2 separate regions of the Homo sapiens genome follow, and region 2 is linked to region 1. The links come from fine-mapping of genetic effects on gene expression. A gene starts in region 1. The other region holds a variant in brackets. All regions are shown on one strand. Distances are between the middles of the regions.

What was found. PIP is the estimated chance that this variant, and not a neighbour inherited with it, causes the effect.
Region 2: its variant is fine-mapped to the expression of TPST1 in whole blood (INTERVAL, PIP 0.97).

The regions. Positions count from the first base shown.
Region 1 is chr7:66,200,146-66,210,420 of GRCh38, reverse strand. TPST1 (tyrosylprotein sulfotransferase 1) reads right to left here and starts at 5,087. Exons shown (of 6, transcript NM_003596.4): 1 at 4,899-5,087. RefSeq lists silencers at 4,685-5,044, 5,195-5,464.
Region 2 is chr7:66,851,971-66,862,245 of GRCh38, reverse strand. It overlaps the pseudogene GTF2IP23. Among named protein-coding and RNA genes, the nearest start is that of LINC02604, 47 kb to the left of the region's middle. RefSeq lists an enhancer at 2,202-2,261. The variant A/T (reference allele first, on the strand shown) is at 5,431.

The DNA.
Region 1 (10,275 bases):
ATCTCACCTACTTCTGATGACTTCACTTTCAATTCTAGCACAGACCCTCCATATATATCTCCATCTTTAGGGCCAACTGCTCTCTCAGGCGATTTCCTGGGCATCAAGATGTTATCATTGGCTTCCTCCTTTTCCCTCAAAATTTGTTTATTTTCCTGTATTTCCTACCTGGATGAACAGAACCACCATTACCCAGACACCCAAGCCTGAACTCAGTATGTCATCCTTGACCCTTCCTTCTCCCTCTCTCTCACCTATACACCTAACCAGTTCTCCTTACTCCACAAATTCACTCCCAAATCTAACCCCTTAGCCTCACTGGCCTCATTATCTTTCACCTACATTCCTATAATGACCACCTATTGGTCTTTGTGCACCTAGTCTTGCCCCTCTCTAACCTGTTCTCTACAATGCTACCAGAGATCAGAGTAATTTTTCTGAAAATACACCTGGGGCCAGGCGCAGTGACTCACACCCATAATCCCAACACTTTGGGAAGTCAAGGCAGAGGGTTACCTGAAGCCAGGAGTTCAAGACCAATCTGGGCAACATAGCAAGACTCCCATCTCTAGAAAAATAAATAAACATAATCAAAATATACCTGGTCACAATACTCATTCATGTTACCTGCCAGAGTAGGGGATGCAGACATGAATCAAAACCCATCCTGATTTCAAAGCCCTACCCTTAGAGTAGAGAAAGACATGTAAACAAGTAAATGACAGTAGAGATGAAGAGACATGGATTGCAGGCAGATGTGGGAATGCTTTACTGCAGAGATAACCAGAAGCCTGTATAATCTACAGGTGGCTAAGTGGGAAAACGCATTCCACGGAGAAAGAGAAACATAAAGCCATTTAGGCATGTTCAGGTAATAGAGGTGATTTTATATGGCTGAGGCAAAAGGCAAGGCATGCAGCAAGACACAAAGCCTGAGATGGGAACAAGCCAGACTTTGTAAGATCTGCCCAGGAAGAAATCCTTCAAAGGTTCCTCGCTATCATCAGGATTATGTGTTAGGACACACAAGGTCATTCATGAGCGGCTCCCATATACCTTCCCAGCCTCATTGCTCATTATGCCCATTCTCCAGCCTTTCCAAATTACCAGTTCTTTCCCAAAAGCACCAGGTTATCACACATTTTTCTTTTTTCTTTAATTTTGAGATGGAGTCTCACTCTGCTGCCCAGGCTGGAGTCAGCTCACTGTAACCTCTGCCTCCCAGGTTCAAGCGATTCTCCTGCCTCAGCCTCCTGAGTAGCTGGGATTACAGGCGCCCACCACCACGCCCGGCTAATTTTTGTATTTTTAGTAGAGATGGGGTTTCACCATGTGGCCGGGCTGGTCTTGATGGTCTTGATCCGTCTGCCTCAGTCTCCCAAAATGCTGGGATTACAGGCGTGAGCCACCGCGCCTAGCCTAAGACACACTTTTCCATATGTTACCTTCTCTTCCAAACTGCCCATCTCCCCTTACCTTTCCTTGTCTAGATTCAGCTCTTCTGAAAACTTAGTTTACTGAGCACTATGTACTTGGCAATTTGCTAGAAACTGGAGATACAATGAGATATGACACAACTCTTTCTCTTAAAGGGTTCACTCTCAAGTCAGTGAGAAAAATAAGAAAACAGAACATTATAAATAGTAAAAATGGGCTGGGCACAGTGGCTCACGCCTGTAATCCCAGCACTTTGGGAGGCTGAGGCAGGCAGACTGCTTGAGGTCAGGAGTTTGAGACCAGCCTGTCCAACATGATGAAACCCTGTCTCTACTAAAAATACAAAAATTAGCTGGGTGTGGTGGCAGGCGCCTGTAATCCCAGCTACTCGGAAGGCTGAGGTACGAGAATCACTCAAACCCTGGAGGCAGAGGTTGCAGCGAACTAAGATGTTACCACTGCACTCCAGCCTGGGCAACAGACCAAGACTGTGTCACAAAAAAAAAACTAAAAATGGTATAAGTGGTAAAAATGGAGATGGAAGTATGTACAGGGTGCTGTGGAAACACAAAGAAAAGTCACCTAACCCAAACTAAGGAGGAGGGGTAGTCAGAAAAAGTCCTAGGTGCCTGTAGACAGAAACTTGTCCTCACTCTCACCAGGGTGATGCTCCCAGAGCACCCTGTAGTCATCTCTGTCACAGTCTTGATTTTACGGTAGTGAATGGTCTGTTTCTTTACTGCTTTTTTCTCTGGATCACAAAGGGCCCAGGAAGGGGATGCGCCCATGCTACAGAAGGCTTGGAAGGACTGGCTCAACATGCTAAGGGTTTGGGAGCTGATGAGAATTTTTAAAGAAAACAAGCAGCATGATCAGATTGATAGTTCAGAAATGGAACCAATTCCAGCAGCAACGTGGAGGATTAAGTAGACTACAGGACCCAGAGGTTCAGAAAAAGCATAACCAAGGTCTGAACCAGTCTTCTGGCAATGAAGAGAGAGAAAAAAAAAAGATGTTATGAAGAGAGGAAAAAAAAAGATCTGAGGTAGCAACAACAATAGGATCTATGCTAGACTTAATGTGAGGAGAAAAGAAGATGATTTTAAGGTTTCTAGAGTAAAGATCTTAAAATAGTAATGTTTGTATATGTGCTTAAAGGGGGCTATGGGTGGAGAGAAAGGGAAGGAAAAGGTAACCACATTTGAAGTAATCAAGCATCCACATACAGCTATGCAGTAGGCAGATGAAAATTAGAACCTGAGGTTCAAGAGAAACGGGGACTAAATAGACGTCTTTGAAAACCATAAATATATAGGTGCTATTTGAAGCCATGAAAGGAAGTGTAATCACACAAGGAAATTAGAGAAAAGAACAAAAATGAAACCCTAAGGAATGCCACGTTAATCTGAGAAGAATAAAAAAAGAAAAGGGAAGCATCAAGAAAAGCTTTGTTTTGGTCTGAATGGTGGAAACCTGAGGATGTATACCATCCAACAGAAAAAATAATAATATGGGAAGAGATCAAAGACGTTAGCTTTCGAAAGTAAGACCCCTCTTCTTCTGAGATCAGAGGAAAGGATATTAGAAATCAGGTACAGACAGGCACAGACAAAAATGACCTCTCCTTAAGAGTTCAGGGCTGATGCCCACCAATTTATTCTGTGAAGTTAAGTGGCAAAATAAGCAATGAAGAGAAGGCAAGAGTAGGACAAAGAGTCAGAGAAAAATGGTAAAGATCCATAAACAGCCATTTAGATTTTAGGACATAAGAGGAATCTAGAGGTTAAGTCAAAGGATCTCCAGGATCCAGAAGTGCAGAAACAGCACCCAGCAGTTTAGTTATATGATTTTTGCCAGTCTGCCTTGGGAGCCCAGGAGCAGAAAAAGCTGACTGATTCGTCCAGGCTTGAGACCATCAGAGCAAAGGTGGCAAGAATAGTACAGGGCCAATGACAATGCTTTTATCATTTTAAAAAGTCAAACGTATTTTACTCTTTTTTAAAAATCGACTCGCTATTTCCTCCAAGAGCGAGTGTTTGGAGAGGGGGAGGGAGAGGGGTGGATAATTCCTCTCTCACTCTTAGAGGACTTGTCAGAAGTTTCATTCTTAAGCATATTTGGTCTGTACAGCAGCTGATTCCAGGAAATCCAAATCCTGATTCCTCCTGGATCTTAAAAGATGAAAATTCATTGCAGCTCCCTGGACTATCCAGCTAATAGATAAACACGTACCACATTGCTTATATACTATGCCACTTTAGCTGGGAGGTAGGGGCTCTTTCTTTCCTAAAAAGAAAGTTACCCAAACACTGCAGATGGGGATGGAGAGGGGATGGGGAGTAATTACACCGCAAAGCCTGCTGACTAGCAGCCTAAGAATCCTTTACAAAGGCAATTAACATAAAACAATACATGGCACGGATAGCAGAATTGTTTCTTCTTAATGAATGCAGTAATTGACCATTTAATCGCTTTACTGGAGTTCACCAATTTCTCCTGCCATCTCCCATACCATTCTTCAGGCAGAGTCAAATCCCTGTGGACACTGGACTTCTTGCTACCATCATCTGGAAAGTACAAAACGCCTGGAAGGAGGAAGAGGCTAACATGCGTGACCACCCACCATGTGCCAGGCCTACTGTGTGCTAGACTCTGGGCAAGGGACTTTACATGTTATGGGGTGCAGCTCATGTAAGGACGAATGAAGATATTACACTATGGATCTGAGCCAGGCGCAGTGGCTCACGCCTGTAATCCCAGCACTTTGGAGGCCGAGGCAGAAGGATAGCTTGAGGTCAGGAGTTCGAAGCCAGCCTGGGCAACATAGAGACTCCATCTCTCAAAAAAAAAAAAAAAAAAAGCGATGAATCCGGCATTGCAGAGAGTGGGAAAGTGTCTGGAGGTTTAAGAGTAAGAGAAGGAAGAGGAGATTGCGATGGTGGGTGGTCAAAGTGAGGGGAGAAGAGGCGAGTTGGGAAAGGAAGGTGCTTAGGAGCAAAAGGGCAAGACCCAGGGACACCTGGAGCGGGGCGGGCGACTGCCATGCAGACAGGACTACGTACAACGGGTAGGATGATGGGGCGATGAGCTCAAGAAGCGCAGCCGGGGTAGACGTGGGGGCAAATGTCCGATCCCGGCGAGACGAGGGTCTCATCCCAGGGGACTGCGGGGCTAGGACGTGGTCCCAGGGCTGCGAGAAGGGAGAGAAAGGGCAGAGGGGAGAGGCCCCGGCGGCCGGGGCGAAGCCGAGCCCGGGAAATGCCGGCGATGGGGGAAGGGGCGTGGGAGCAGGGGCCGGACGGGCCAGACCCGGGGCTCCGCGCTCGGGGGCGGGGTTGGACAACCGGGAGGCACCGAGCAGAAGGCGACAAGGGGCCAAGGGATGCCAGGACGGGGCACAGGGCCGGGTGTGAGGAGACGAGAGGGGAGCGGAGCCGCAGCGAGCGCCGCGTCCCCCTTACCTGGGATGAGTGAGGAGCCGCCGCGCCGCCTGGACGGCATCCTGGCCTCAGCCGCTGGTCCCACCGCCTTCGGTGGGGGGCCACTCGGGAGCCCGCCCTCACCGCCAAGCGCCGGCAGCTGCCAGCCTGGACCGGCCCCGCAGAGCAGCGCCGTTCCGACCCGCAACCGAAGCCGCCTCAGCAGCGTCTCCCGCGGTCGCCAACTCAGCGACAACCGCCAGGGTCCGGGGAGGTGGCGGGATCACACATCTGCTACGATTGGCTGAGCGGACGATGTGTCGGCTGCTCTGATTCGTGAGTTCCGGCCGGCTGCCCACCGAAGGAGGCGCGGCTGGGAATGGAGCTGGGTCCGGCAGGCGCCGAGGGGCGGGGGTCTGACGTCGCAGCCGGCCAGCGCCCCCACAGCCCTTCCCGTGCGCGCTCCCGAGGGGGCTTCCCGGCAGCCGCAGGCCTGGCCGGGTGGTTGCCCTAGCAACAGCGCGCGTGGCCTGGCTGCAGGGGAGCCGCGGGCAGGTGGCGGTCCTCACCGCCCCCACCCCCAACGTGGGTGTCCCAGAGGCCTTCATCAGTGAAACCCTAGGACAGGAGAAGAAAATGAGCTTTTCCTGATAATTCCTCTCCTCTGCTTCAGAGCCCACCTTTGCCCGCTGCTGGCAGAGAAGCTGTCATCTCCTCGGGGAGATAACGCGCAAATGCAAATAACGAACTCAAACACTATTTCATCCCCACGAGAGTGTAGACGTGCAATAGTCCCTCCCAACCACAGAGGTGGGGGGCTGACGCCCTAAAAGAAAGAAATGAAAACTAGGGAGAAAAAGGCAAAGAAGCAAAAGAAAGGTGGGGAAAGGGCAGATATTTCACAAAATGATCCATTCATTTTACAGTTTCTTCCTACAGACACATCTACACCAGGTTCTGTCAAAGCAATTATTTCTACTCCAGTGACATGGATTAGAGAAGGCATGAGTGCAGAATCTAACAGCTGTATTCAAAATTGCTCTCTGCTAGGCCAGGTGGGGTGGCTCATGCCTCTAATCACAGCACTTTGGGAAGCCAAAGCTGGTGAATCACCTGAGGTCAGGAGTTCGAGACCAGCCTGGCCAACATAGTGAAACCCCGTCCCTGCTAAAAATACAAAAATTAGCCGGGCATGGTGGCGGACGCCTGTCGTCCCAGCTACTGGGGAGGCTGTGGCAGGAGAATTGCTTGAACCCGGGAAGGTAACTACCTTCCTTTGCACACAGTATAATATTTTCAAAGTTCATCCATGTTGTAGCATGTATCGGCACTTCATTCCTTGTTACGGCCGAATAATAGTCCATTATACAGACATCACCTTTTTTTTTTTTGAAGAGTCTCACTCTGTCTCCCAGGCTGGAGTGGAGTTATGTGATCTTGGCTCACTGCAACCTCCACCTCCTGGGCTCAAGTGATTCTCATGCCTCCGCCTCCAAAGTAGCTAGAATTACATGCATGTGCCACCATGCCTGGCTAATTTTTATATTTTTAGTAGAGACGGGGTTTCATCAAGTTGCCCAGGCTGATCTTGAACTCCTGGCCTCAAGTGATCTGCCTGCCTTGGCCTCCCAAAGTGCTGGGATTACAGGCATGGGCCACCGTGCCTGGCTGGACATCATCTTTTATTTATCCATTAATCCATTGATGGACATCTGTTTCTACTTTTTTGGCTATTATACATGATGCTGCTATGAACATTTGTGTAGAAGTTTTTGTGTGTGGCCGGGTGCAGTGGCTCACGCCTGTAATCCCAGCAGTTTGAGAGGCCGAGGTGGGCGGATCACAAGGTCAGGAGATCGAGACCATCCTGGTTAACACGGTGAAACCCCGTCTCTACTAAAAATACAAAAATTTAGCCAGGCATGGTGGCTGGCGCCTGTAGTCCCAGCTACTCGGGAGGCAGAGGCAGGAGAATGGCGTGAACCCGGGAGGTGGAGGTTGCAGTGAGCCAAGATTGTGCCACTGCACTCCAGCCTGGGCAACAGAGTGAGACTCCGTCTCAAAAAAAAAAAAAAAAAGAAGTTTTTGTGTGGACCTCATTTGATCTTTACAGCAACTGTCTAAGGTACATATGATATCTCCTTCTACAGATAATCAGCTGACTGGGTGTGGTGGCTCACGCCTGTAATCCCAGCAGTTTGGGAAACCCAGGCAGGAGGGTCCCGTGAGCCCAGGAGTTCTAGGCTGCAGTGAGCCATGATGGCACCACTGCACTCCAGCCTGGGTGACAGACTGAGACCTTGCCTCTCACCCAAAAAAAAAAATAATAATTATATATATGTGTGTGTGTGTGTGTGTTTGTGTGTATATGTGTGTGTGTGTATATATGTGTGTGGGTGTATACACACACACACACAGAGATAGATAAGAAAACTGACTATAAGATGGTAGACAGCAATTTTGTTGTTTGTTTGTTTTTGTTTTGAGATGGAGTTTCGCTCTTGTTGCCCAGGCTGGAGTGCAATGGTATGTATGACCTTGGCTCACTACAACCTCCGCCTCCCGAGTTCAAGTGATTCTTCAGCCTCAGCCTCCCCAGTAGCTGGGATTACAGGCGCCTGCCACCATGCCCAGCTAATTTTTTTGTAGTTTTATTAGAGACAGGGTTTTGCCATGTTGGCCGGGCTGGTCTCAAACTCCTGACCTCAGATGATCTGCCCGGCTCCACCTTCCAAAGTGACGGGATTACAGGTGTGAGCCACCGCGCCCACCTTTTGTTTTGTTTTTAGAGACAGGGTCTCACTATGTTGCCCAAGCTAGTCTCGAACTTCTGACCTCAAGCGATCCTCTAACCAGTCTTTTAATGTTAAGCAAGGGCCAAGTTACATTCTGCTTTCTACATTTCAGACCTCTTCAGGAAAAGGACTCACCATGGCCTCAGTAATACGGAAGCCACCACCGGTGCACAGCCCCTGCCAGGCTCTTTCCACAAAGTAGAGATGGAGATCTGAGATAACCTCCCACACTGCCCAGAAAATCCTTCCCCCACCTATAAGACCTAGAAAAAGAATTGAGTAGCCACATAGGGAGCTGACACTGGTCCTCCTAGCACGTATTAAACTGTGAGAACGAATTCTAGATGTGGGGAATTCAGTAAGAAGAAAGGACACGATCCTTTCAGTGAAACCTGTCATACGGCAGGATGTCTCACTGAGCAGGACAGCTTCAGGTGATCCGGGGACTACACTCTGAGGCAGAAGTAAGAAGCAGGGTCCAGCCTCTGACAGGGTCCAGCCTCTGAGGCAGAAGTAAGAAACAGCTTGATCTGAAGCAAAGCTCAGGGTTATTGAGAACAAGATGAACTTTTCCTGCTTTCTAAATCTGCCCCAACACATATAGTATATGTGCTAGAAGGAAAAAAAACTCCAAAATATACTCAAGTGAAAAGAACAAAGTTCAAAACAGTGTGTATAATATACCCATTTGTATATATTTAAAATACACATACACACACACTTGTTATTTTCAGAGGAAATATCAAGAAAGATGCACACATTAAATTGGTAACAGTGTTGTCTCTGGGAGGGAAACTGAAGGACTTGGGCACAGGAATAGGAAAGAGACTAATTCTTTGCTATGTACTCTTGGGCACCTTTAAAAATTATGTGCTATATGCTTGGATTACCTTTTTTTTTTTTTTTTCTTATTTTAATAGGCAGGGTCCCATTCTGTCACCCAGGCTGGAGTACAGTGGCATAGTCATAGCTCACTGCAGCCTCAAACGCCTGGGCTCAAGTGATCCTCCCACCTCAGCCTCCTGAGTAGCTAAGACTACGGGTGCACGCCACCCACTCCCTGCTAATTTTTTTTTTTTTAGACAGAGTCTCGCTCTGTTGCCCAGGCTGGTGTGCAGTGGCATGATATCGGCTGACTGCAACCTCTGCCTCCCAGGTTCAAGCAATTCTCCTGCATCAGCCTCTCGAGTAGCTGGGATTACAGGTGCCCACCACCACGCCCAGCTAATTTTTGTATTTTTAGTAGAGACAGGGTTTCACCATGTTGGCCAGGCTGGTCTCGAACTCCTGGCCTCATGTGATCTGCCCACCTTGGCCTCCCAAAGTGCTGGGATTTCAGGTGTAAGCCACCGTGCCCAGCCTTTTACTTTTTTTTTTTTTTTTTTTTTGGTAGAGATGGGATCTTGCTATGTTGCCCAAACTGGTCTTGAACTCCTGGGCTCAAGCAGTCCTCCAACGCTGGCCTCCCAAAGTGGTGGGATTATAGGCATGAGCCATCACGCCTGGCCTGGATTACCTATTTACAAGGAATGAATACATAACTTTTTTTTAAAGGAAAACTTGTTCCTGAAAAACTGTCCAAGACTGTATGCACATCTGATTCACACCACATTTCTATTCCTCTGTGTAATTTAATGAGCCTCATAGATTCTGAACACTCTTTCTGCGTTTCTATTTTCTCTCCCGGGCTTTACCTTTCCAGGTGATCAGCCCAGAATTAGATCACCTCACCAGAGAGCATCAGCCAGGTATGGTGGCTCACACCTGTAATGCCAGCACTTTGGGAGTCTGAGGAGGGCAGATCACTTGAGATCAGTAGTTCGAGACCAGCCTGGTCAACATGGTAAAACCCAATCTCTACTAAAAACACAAAAATTAGCCAGGTGTGGTGGGGGCACACCTGTAATCCCAGCAACTCGGGAGGCTGAGGCAGGAGAATCGCTTGAACTCAGGATGTGGAGGCTGCGGTGAGCGGAGACTGTGCAACTGCACTCCAGCCTGAGCGACAGCGCAAATCTCTGTCTCAAAAAAATTAAAAAAAGATAACCTCGGTCGGGCGCGGTGGCTCACGCCTGCAATCCCAGCACTTTGGGAGGCCGAAGCGGATGGATCATGAGGTCAGGAGATCAAGACCACCCTGGCTAACACGGTGAAACCCCGTCTCTACTAAAAATACAAAAAAATTAGCCGGGTGTGCTGGCGGGCGCCTGTAGTTCCAGCTACCCGGGAGGCTGAGGCAGGAGAATGGCGTGAATCCCGGAGGCGGAGCTTGCAGTGAGCCGAGATTGCGCCACTGCACTCCAGCCTGGGTGACAGAGCGAAACTCCATCTCAAAAAAAAAAAAAAAAAGATAACTTCACCTGTGTATAGATGGCTTTGCCCCATCTTCAGGCAATTCAAAGGGCTCACAGCCTGTTTTCTTCCAAACAGCCTACGCAACCCTGGCAGAGCCCAGAAGAGGAGAAAATGGGCCAGTGCTTGCTGCCATCCCAGTGAGAGCTGCGAGTCTCTCTCCTCTAGGTCAGCCTTTGCACCGCTTCTACCTTGGGAACTCACCTCTAGAGAAGACCTGGCCAAGGATGAGTGAGGACTCCTTACTACAGCAACCTCACCTCCTGGAGGGA
Region 2 (10,275 bases), 650 kb before region 1:
TATATACACACATGCACACATATACACACACATATATATACACACACATATATATACACATATATATATATATATAACACCTTCTTGACCTATGATCAAAGTTCCTTCTAAACTCAATTTGGGGCACCATATATCACAAACCAGATGGCAAGAAATTAGATAAATTTTAGTTGTTTTCATGCCATCCCAATCACATCTTAATCAGTTCACAAACATGTTTCAGCAAATGCTGGAGGAGTTTTTCTCTCTTTAGGAGTCCTCTCTCACTTTACCCTGCTTAATAAAAGACCTCACACACTTACAAACAGGATAGAGACAGGCCAGCTTCAGGACATGCTGCATGGGGAGAACTGACTGTCCCAAAAAGAGAGGGCTCTACACCCCTCTGAACTCCACAATAGACCGGCTACACACAAATGCCTGAAGTAAGGCAGTCCCCTCAGGAAAATGAACAGTTGGCAAGATCAAGACTTCTGGCCCAAAGGGCCTGCAGCTGGTCTGACCATTCATCAAAAAATCTGAATTTAAATGGAGATATATTGGACTGTCACATGCAATAAAAGAACTGAAGCAGCAAATGGTCTTGATTTGGGTTTCCTTCCACCCTACACGGCTCCAGCAAACAGAGGAGTGAGTATGCCTGCGGTGCTCCTGACACATCTAGGGTAGTTCCTATTCACAGTGGTCAACCTTTGGGATTTTCCACACATCGCAGGGTCATTGTCGATGCCCCTGGGTAAAGTGTAGTAGCCTCAACCTCCTGGGCTCAGGCAATCCTCCTACCTCAGCCTCCTAAGTAGCTGAGACTACAGGTACATGCCACCATACCTGGCTAATTGCTAAATTTTTTTGCAGAAATGGGGTCTCACTCTGTTGCCCAGGCTGGTCTCAAACTCCTGGCCTGAAGCCATCTTCCTGCCTCAGCCTCTCAAAGTGCTGGAATTCCAGGCATGAGCCATTGTGCCCGGTCAAGTTTAGCTGATTCTTTTACCATGCTCAATTTCCAAAAAACACAGGAGGGCAGAGGTGGGGCCTCTCATGCAGATCCTCCTTCTCAGGCGTCATCTCCTAGTGACATCCTCCTTCTCAGGTGTCATGAATCTTAGTAACATTATGGTGGCATCGCTAATGATAAACAATTTTCACCACCTGATCTATTTTATTACATCACTTGGAAACATAATGACTTAAAGAGTGGGAAAGATTATTTAGTTTATGGATCACTGGCTGATTTACAGTCAGATATAAGGAGAGATAAAATATCACAAAAAATGCTGATGAGAAGAAACTTAACATTTTGACTTTGTTCAATACATTAAGTTCTTAGAGACGTAAAATAGGATAAGTAGTTCAAAAACTAAGTACACAAATTCTGCAAATAACATACAATTAGTGACCTAAGTTTGTAGTTGCCAACTGAGTAGCACCTAGAAGCTGGTCTCTGAAGACTCAGTGAGTGCCATGCACCCCGCTTCAAATCCATAGGGAGGGCAGGACTCCTAACCCAGGAGACTTGGCTTCTGTGCACTAAAACTCAAAGGGTCTGTTTCAGGAGAAGATGAGGGCCCCAGGGTCATGGGAACATGGATCCCCACTGCAGCCTTCCTTGCTCAGGACAGCTTGCGGCCCTTCCAGATGTGGTGCCTGCAGTCCCTCCTGCGCCCTTAAGTGTCACAATGCATGCTACATGGCCAAAAGCCACAGACATTTCTGCCAGCTTAGAGAACAGTTTATTGCCATGGATTCACTCTGTGAGTATTTGTTGAGCACCTGCTTGAGAAGTAAACAGGACAGGCATGATCTGCGCTGTCAGCACTACTGTACTACAGTGGGAGGAAAAAGTCAGCCAGCAGGGCTTTGTGAAAAATGAAAGGAGGATGAGTCAGTGAGCCTCACAGCTGAGGTGAGACGGTGCTCAGTGAAGACCTCTCCAACATGGTGACATTTAAACTGTGACACAAATAGAAATGAGAGGCACAGAAAGCCCTCAAGTAAGAGCATTCCACAAACACCAGGCCTCAGCCCGACAGCGCCAGGAGGCTGTGACCTGAGAGGAAGAAAGGCACACAAATGACCATGGTGGCTGGCACAGAGCAAGTGATCCACAGAGGGGATGCAGGAAAGCAGAGAAATGGCAGGAAGCAGCTCCCCCACGCCCCTGCAGAACCCATCAGGGGCTGTGAGGTTTACTCCAAGTATAGTGAAAGCCACTACAGATGACAGTCCAGAGAATGACAGGCTCCACCTCCTACTTTCAATGAACTGACCTGGCTGCGCTGTGGCATGACTCCCACTGAGAGCTGGAGGGCAGTGAAGGAGGATGGGGTAGGATCTGAGCTTTCTGTTCAGGGCGGAGTCAGGAGGCCTTGCTAGGCTGGATGTGGGAAGGCAGGAAATCACACCTCAGCGTAACTCCTGGGCATCTGGCTTGGGCAGCTGGTAGACCCTGAGAGGAGCTCCTGAAAAGGGGAATGGAGACTCTGCCTGGGACACATGAGGTCTGAGGAGGAATCAAACAGGTAGGCAAATACAAAGGTCTAGTACGAGGGGCATCTTCAGGGCCAGAAATGAGAGTCTCAATGACACAGACAATATAATATTTTTAAGAAGTGGGCAGGGTGGGATTGTCTGTAAAGAAGACACAGTAAGAAAAAAGAAAGAGGGCTCAGGGTGAAGCTGCTGGCTGGCACTCCCCAGTGTAGAGAGGATAAGGGCAGGGGCCTCAAGAGACTGAAAATGAGACAGGGAGGAGCCAAGCAAGAGCCCACAAGGTTTGAAAATTTCCATAAAAATAGTTTTTAAAAGAGTATTGGGGAGCAGGTGACAACAACCTAGAATTCTGCTGAGAAGCAGAATAAAAGTGGGGCAGACAGTGACTTTGGGAGGCAAAAGATGTTGTAGGAAATATCAAAACTAAGTATTTGAGGTGTTGATGAAGTGTCTAAGGAGCAAGACAGAAAAGAGAGCTTCGCTGAGGCTTCATCTTCAAATGCAGTGGTGGCTGCTGTCAAAGCTCTCTCTGTTACCGCAGAGCGGCACCCAGGCACAAGTACAGCCCAATAAAAAGGATTCCCAACAGTCTCACTCTTCGTGCATAAAACCCTTGACTGTACAGAAAAATGTACTCAGTAAAAAGCATATGGGTTTCCATTACCTGACTCTCTCTCCTGTTATGACTAAAACTTTAATAATGAGTGCACATTAAAAACAGTAAGACGGCCGGGCATGGCAGCTCACGACTATAATCCCACCACTTCAGTGGGTCGAGGCAGGTGGATCACCTGAGATCAGGAGTTCGAGACTAGCCTGACCAACGTGGTGAAACCCCATCTCTACTAAAAATACAAAAATTAGGCAGGCCTGGTGGCAGCTGCCTGTAATCCCAGCTACTTGGGAGGCTGAGCCAGGGAGAATTGCTCGAACCTGGGAGAAAGAGGTTGCAGTGAGCTGAGATGATGCCAGTGCACTCCAGTGTGGGTGACAGAGCAAGACTCCATCTCAAAAACAAACAAACAAACAAACAAAAAAACAGAAGGTGCCATTTGCTATGGGGAGACTAGGGATATGATCTTGCTGCAATCCTTCCATTTTAGTAAATCTAAAGAGTGTAATTCCATTCTGTTTTGTCCCCACTCCACTCCAGAGCCAAAACTAGTAAGAAAATCAATTCTATTTCTATTTCTTTCAAAACACATCTAACAATAAGAGATGATATGCACAGCTCCATACTATAAAAGAAAAACTTATGTCCTGGGTATCATAGACATTTGATGAATGTTTGTTCAGGTGACTGGTGTAGACTTCAATAATAACCCGTTCAATGCATTATGCCAGATAAAATCTTGCATCTCAAAAGTAGGACAAACATTGTTCTTTTAGTTCTGTCTACCCATAAATGCAATATTTACATGTATTTATAATGGGTTAATAAAAAGAAAATGAGTTTACTGTTCTAGAGAGTATTAGAATTTTGAAAATATGAATTCTCCTGTCCTAGCACATAATTGTTAGAGGCATATTATTTAATATGGAAGGCATCATTAAAAAATGTTAAGCATTAGGTAATTATTGCACATAATCTTTTAATCTGACTTAAGACTGAATGCCTACCTCCTGAAGCTGGTTTGTCAAGCTGTAAATCTTCATGTGTTGAATTCATAAGTTCATGTCTGAAAGGTAAGAATAAATACTTAATATTCACTAGGCAATATTCAGCAAAGTAATATCCACTAGTACATATTTCACATTTAATCACCAAGGGTGGTTTTGAAAAGACAAGGCAGGCTGGGCATGGTGGCTTATGCCTGAAATCCCAACACTTTGGAAGGCAGAGGCAGGCAGATCACGAGGTCAGCAGTTTGAGACAAGCCTGGCCAACATGGTGGCACCCCATCTGTACTAAAATCACAAAACTCAGCTGGGCGTGGTGGTAGGTGCCTGTAATCCCAGCTACTCAGGAGGCTGAGACAGGATAATTGCCCGAACCCAGGAGGTGGAAGTTGCAGTGAGTCGAAATCATGCCACTGCACTCCAGCCTGGGTAATAGAAAGAGACTCCATCTTGGAAAAAAAAAAAATTAAGAAAAGACAATCTGGATGATTGAGCACAACTAAATCTTCATTTGAGGTTTCTACAGAGTAACGAAACAAAATAATATTGTAAATTGTCTCATAAGCTGCTTCATGGAGCATGTGTTCTCACAAGTAAAGTGGTAACTCTGCAACCCACAGGTCTTTGAAGCATATTACAAAAATCTTAAATGGGATCCTTTAATATCACATTGCATTCAAGACTATCTTCCTCTACACAACTAGAAAAACAATCATATATTCCCACATATGCCACAAAAATCTCAGGCCTAAAAACAAGACACGGATACTATTTTCTTTAGCAAAAGTAGCAGAAAACTGTGAAAGAAAATGTCAGTTGCATGCTAGTCAGGTGTGGGCAGTGTTCATGTTTCAAAAGCTAACACTGGCACGACTGACTCAATGTTGGACCCAGATATATTAAAAAGTGGAAGATAAAAATACTTAAAATAGGCCGGGTGCAGTGGCTCACATCTGTAATCCCAGCACATTGGGAGGCTGAGGTAGGTGGATCACCTGAGGTCAGGAGTTTGAGACCTGACCAACATGGAGAAACCCTGTCTCTAGTAAAAATACAAAATTACCTGGGCTTGGTGGGACATGCCTGTAATCCCAGCTACTCAGGAGGCTGAGGCAGAATCACTTGAACCTGGGAGGCAGAGGTTGCAGTGAGCCGAGATCACACCATTGCACTTTAGCCTGGGCAACCAGAGAGAAACTCCATCAAAAAAAAAAAAAACCCCATAATATAAGTCAAACTTAAGTAAATATAACCGTAGTGGTAAATATTTGTCAACAATAAAAAAGATGTATTACTCACAAGAGAGATAAGAGTCAAATA[A/T]GAATCCAGGAGTCTTACTTTTTAATCACAAAACAAATCCTTTCCATTGCAAGTAATATCCTCTCAAAGCCAGGAATTCTGTAAGTGGATAGCCTTCCTAAAAAAATTTCTGGTGGGGCAAAGTGGCTCATGCCTGAATCCCAGCAATTTGGGAGGCCAAGGCGGGTGGATGATGAAGTCAGGATTACCAGACAAGCCTGGCTAACATAGTGAAACCCTGTCTTGGCCAGGCACGGTGGCTCACACCTGTAATCCCAGCACTTTGGGAGGCTGAGGCAGGTGGATCACGAGGTCAAGAGATCGAGACCATCCTGGCTAACACGGTGAAACCCCATGTCTACTAAAAGTACAAAAAATTAGCCGGGTGTGGTGGCGGGCGCCTATCGTCCCAGCTACTTGGGAGGCTGAGGCAGGAGAATGGCGTGAACCCGGGAAGCGGAGCTTGCAGTGAGCCGAGATCGTGCCACTGCACTCCAGCCTGGGCAACAGAGCGAGACTCCGTCTCAAAAAAAAGAAACCCCATCTCTACTAAAAATACAAAAAAATTAACCAGGCATGGTGACTTGCGCCTGTAGTCCCAGCTACTCAGGAGACTGAGGCAAGTGAATCACTTGAATCCAAGAGGCGGAGGTTGCAGTGAGCCGAGATTGCTCCACTGCACTCCAGTCTGGGCACAGAGCAAGACTGTGTCTCAAAAACAAAAACAAAAACAACAACAACAAAAATTCCTGGCCTAGCGTAGTGGTTCATGCCTGTAATCCCAGCACTCTGGGAGGCTGAAGCAGGAGGATCACCTGAGTTCAGCAGTTCCAGACCAGCCTGGCCAACATGGTGAAACCCCATCTCTATTAAAAATACAAAATTAGCCTGGTGTAGTGGCGGGCGCCTGTAATCCCAGGTACTCAGGAGACTGAGGCAAGAGAATCGCTTGAACCCAGGAGGCAGAGGCTGCAGTGAGCTGAGATCACAGCATTGTACTGCAGCCTAGATCATGCCATTGCACTCCAGCCTAGGCGACAAGAGTAAAAACTCTGTCACAAAAAAAAAAAAAAAAAAAAAATTCCTGTGGGGAAGGCCTTCTACATAAAGATCTTCAGCTTGAGACTGGAAAAAAGGGGTGGACCTTTGGCTTTTACAGCTTGAGCTATAAAGACAAAAAGAAAAAAGCGTATCATTTAAACACAATATGTAGAAAAGAATAATTATTGAATCTGTATTGCTCTTTAATTTTTATAATTTGATCTTTACTTCTGTTACTGTAATTGAGTCCAAAGAAAAATATTATGAGTAAAATAAAAACACCACCAAAAATGCTAATGTTCTGTTCATCAAAGTCTGCAGTGAAATATCCCATTACAGATAAGTGCAGTGACTCACACCTGTAATCCCAGCACTTTGGGAGGCCAAGAAAGGTGAATCAACTGAGGTCAGGAGTTCGAGACCAGACTAGCAAACATGGTGAATCCACGTCTCTACTAAAAATAAAAACGTAGCCAGGCAAGGTGGCAGGCACCTGTAATCCCAGCTACTCAGGAGGCTGAGGCAGGAGAACTGCTTGAACCCAGGAGGCAGAGGCTGCAGTGAGCTGAGATCACAGCATTGTACTCCAGCCTAGGCAACAAGAGCAAAACTCAATCTCAAAAAAAAAACAAACAAAAAAAAAACAGTAAGAGAATTGTGGAGCTGATGGAGCTGAGTCCTACTCATTGTATTTACTTTCCTAAAATAAAACAACATTATAAAAAAACATATGACCAGGCGCAGTGGCTCATGCCTGTAATCCCAACACTTTGGGAGGCCAAGGTGGGAGGCTCACCTAAGGTCAGGAGTTTGAGACCAGCCTGGCCAACATGGTGAAACCCCAACTCTACTACAAATGCAAAAATTACGCAGACCTTTTGGCAGGTGCCTGTGATGCCAGCTACTTGGGAGGCTGAGCCAGGGAGAATTGCCTGAACCTGGGAGATGGATGTTGCAGTGAGCTGAGATCACGCCACTGCACTCCAGTGTGGGTGACAGAGCAAGACTCCATCTCAAAAAAAAAAAGAAAAGAAAACAGCTAGCAGGTGCCATTTGCTATGGGGAGACTAGGGATATGATCTTGCTGCAATCCTTCCATTTTAGTAAATCTTAACAGTGTGATTCCATTCTGTTTTGTCCCCATTTCACTCCAGAGGCAAAACAAGTAAGAAAACCAATTCTATTTCTATTTCTTTCGAAACACATCTAAACAATTAAGAGATGATATGCATGGCTCTATACTCTAAAAGGAAACATTCTTGTGTCCTGGGTATCATGGACATTTCATGAATGCTTGTTCAAGTGACTGGTGTAGACTTCAATAATAACCTGTTCAATGCATTATGCCAGATAAATCTTGCATCTCAAAAGTAGGCCAAATTTTGTTCTTTTAGTTCTGTCTACCCATAAATGCAACATTTACATGTATTTATAATGGGTTAAAAAAAGAAAATGAGTTCACTGTTTTAGAGAGTATTAGAATTTTAACAAATGAGGCCGGGCGGGGTAGCTCTGACCTGTAATCCCAGTACTTTGGGAGGCCGAGATGGGTGGATCATCTTAGGTTGGGAGTATGAGACTAGCCTGACAAACATGGAGAAACCCCAACTCTATTAAAAATATCCGGGTGTGGCAGCGCATGCCTGTAATCTCAGCTACTCAGTAAGCTGAGGCAGGAGAATTGCTTGAACCCAGGAGGCAGAGGTTGCATGAGCCTAGATTGTGCCACTGCACTCTAGCCTGGGCAACAAGAGCAAAACTCCGTCTCAAAAAGAAAAAAAAAAATTAAAAAAAAAAAAAGAATTTTGACAACATGAATTCTCCTGTCCTGGAACATAATTAATAGTTACAAGCATATTATTTCATGTGGAAGGTACCATTTTAAAAAAACAATGTCAAGCATTAAATAATTATTGCACATAATCTTTTTTTTTTTTTTTTTTGAGATGGAGTCTCACTCTGTCACCCAGGCTGGAGTGCAGTGGCGGGATCTCGGCTCACTGCAAGCTCCGCCTCCCAGGCTCATGCCATTCTCCTGCCTTAGCCTCCCGAGTAGCTGGGACTACAGGTGCCCACTACGATACCCGTCTAAGTTTTTGTACTTTTAGTAGAGATGGGGTTTCATCCTGTTAGTCAGGATTGTCTCGATCTCCCGACCTCATGATCCACCCACCTCGGCCTCCCAGAGTGCTGGGATCACAGGTGTGAGCCACCACGGCCAGCCTGCACATAATCTTCTAATCTGACTCAAGACTGAAGACCTACCTCCTGAAGCTGGTTTATCAAGCTGTAAATCTTCATGTCTTAAATCCATAAGTTCATGTCTGAAAGGTGAGACTACTTAATATTCACTAGGCAATATTCAGCGAAGTAACATCCACTAGTACATATTTAACATTGAATCACCAAGGATGGTTTTGAAAAGACAAGACAGGCTGGGCATGATCGCTCACCTGTAATCCCAGCACTTTGGGAGGCCGAGACTGGCAGATCACAAGGTCAGGAGTTGTAGACCAGCCTGGCCAACATGGTGAAACACTGTCTCTACTAAAAATACAAAAATTAGCTGTGTGTGGTGGCAGGTGCCTGTAATCCCAACTACTCGGGAGGCTGAAGCAAGAGAATTGCTTGAACTCAGGAGGTGGAGGCTACAGTGAGCCAAGGTCATGCCACTGCACTTCAACCTGGGTGACAGAGCAAGAGTCCATCTCAGGGAAAAAAAAAATTAAGAAAAGACAATCTGGATGCTTGAGTGCAACTAAACCTTCATTTGAGGTTTCTACAGAGTAACAAAACAAAATAATAATTGTAAAATGTCTCATAAGGTGCTTCATGGAGCATGTGTCCTCACAAGTGACCTACTTTACAACCTACAGGTCTTTGAAGCATATTACAAAAATCTTAAATGGGATCCTTTAATATCACATTGCATTCAAGACTATCTTCCTCTACACATCTAGAAGAACAATCATGTATTCCCATATATGGTATAAAAATCTCAGGTCTAAAAGCAAGACATGGATACTATTATTTTTAGCAAAAGTAGCAGAAAATTGTGAAAGAAAATGTCAGTTGCATGCCAGTCAGGTGCGGGCAGTGTTCATGTTTCAAAAGCTAACACTGGCATGACTGACTCAATGTTGGACCCAGACAAATTAAAAAATGGTAGATAAAAATACATATAATACGCCGGGCGCGGTGGCTCAAGTCTGTAATCCCAGCACTTTGAGAGTCCGAGGCAGGTGGATCACAAGCTCAGGAGTTCAAGACCAGCCTAGCCAATAATGGTAAAACCCCGTCTCTGCTAAAAATACAAAAATCAGCTGGGCATGTTGGTAGGCACCTGTACTCCCAGCTACTCGGGAGGCTGAGGCAGGAGAATTGCTTAAAGCTGGGAGGTAGAGGTTGCAGTGAGCCAAGATTGAGCCACTGCCCTCCAGCCTGGGCTACAGAGCAAGACTCCGTCTCAAAACAACAACAACAAAAAACATAAAATAACTCAAACAATTAAATATAACCCTAGTGGTGAATGAATATTTGTCAACAATAACAAAGATATATTACTAAGAACAGAGATAGGAGTCCAACAAGAACCCAAGAGTCTTACTTTTTAATCACAAAATGAATCCTTTCCTTTGCAAGGAATTCCATAAGTAGATAGCCTTCTTAAAAAAGATTCCTGGTGGGGCGAGGTGGTTCACGCCTGTAATCTCAGCACTTTGGGAGGCTAAAGCGGGAGGATCACCTGAGGTCAGGAGTTTGAGACCCGCCTGGCCAACATGGTGAAACCCTAACTCTACTAAAAATACAAAAATTAGGCGGGCG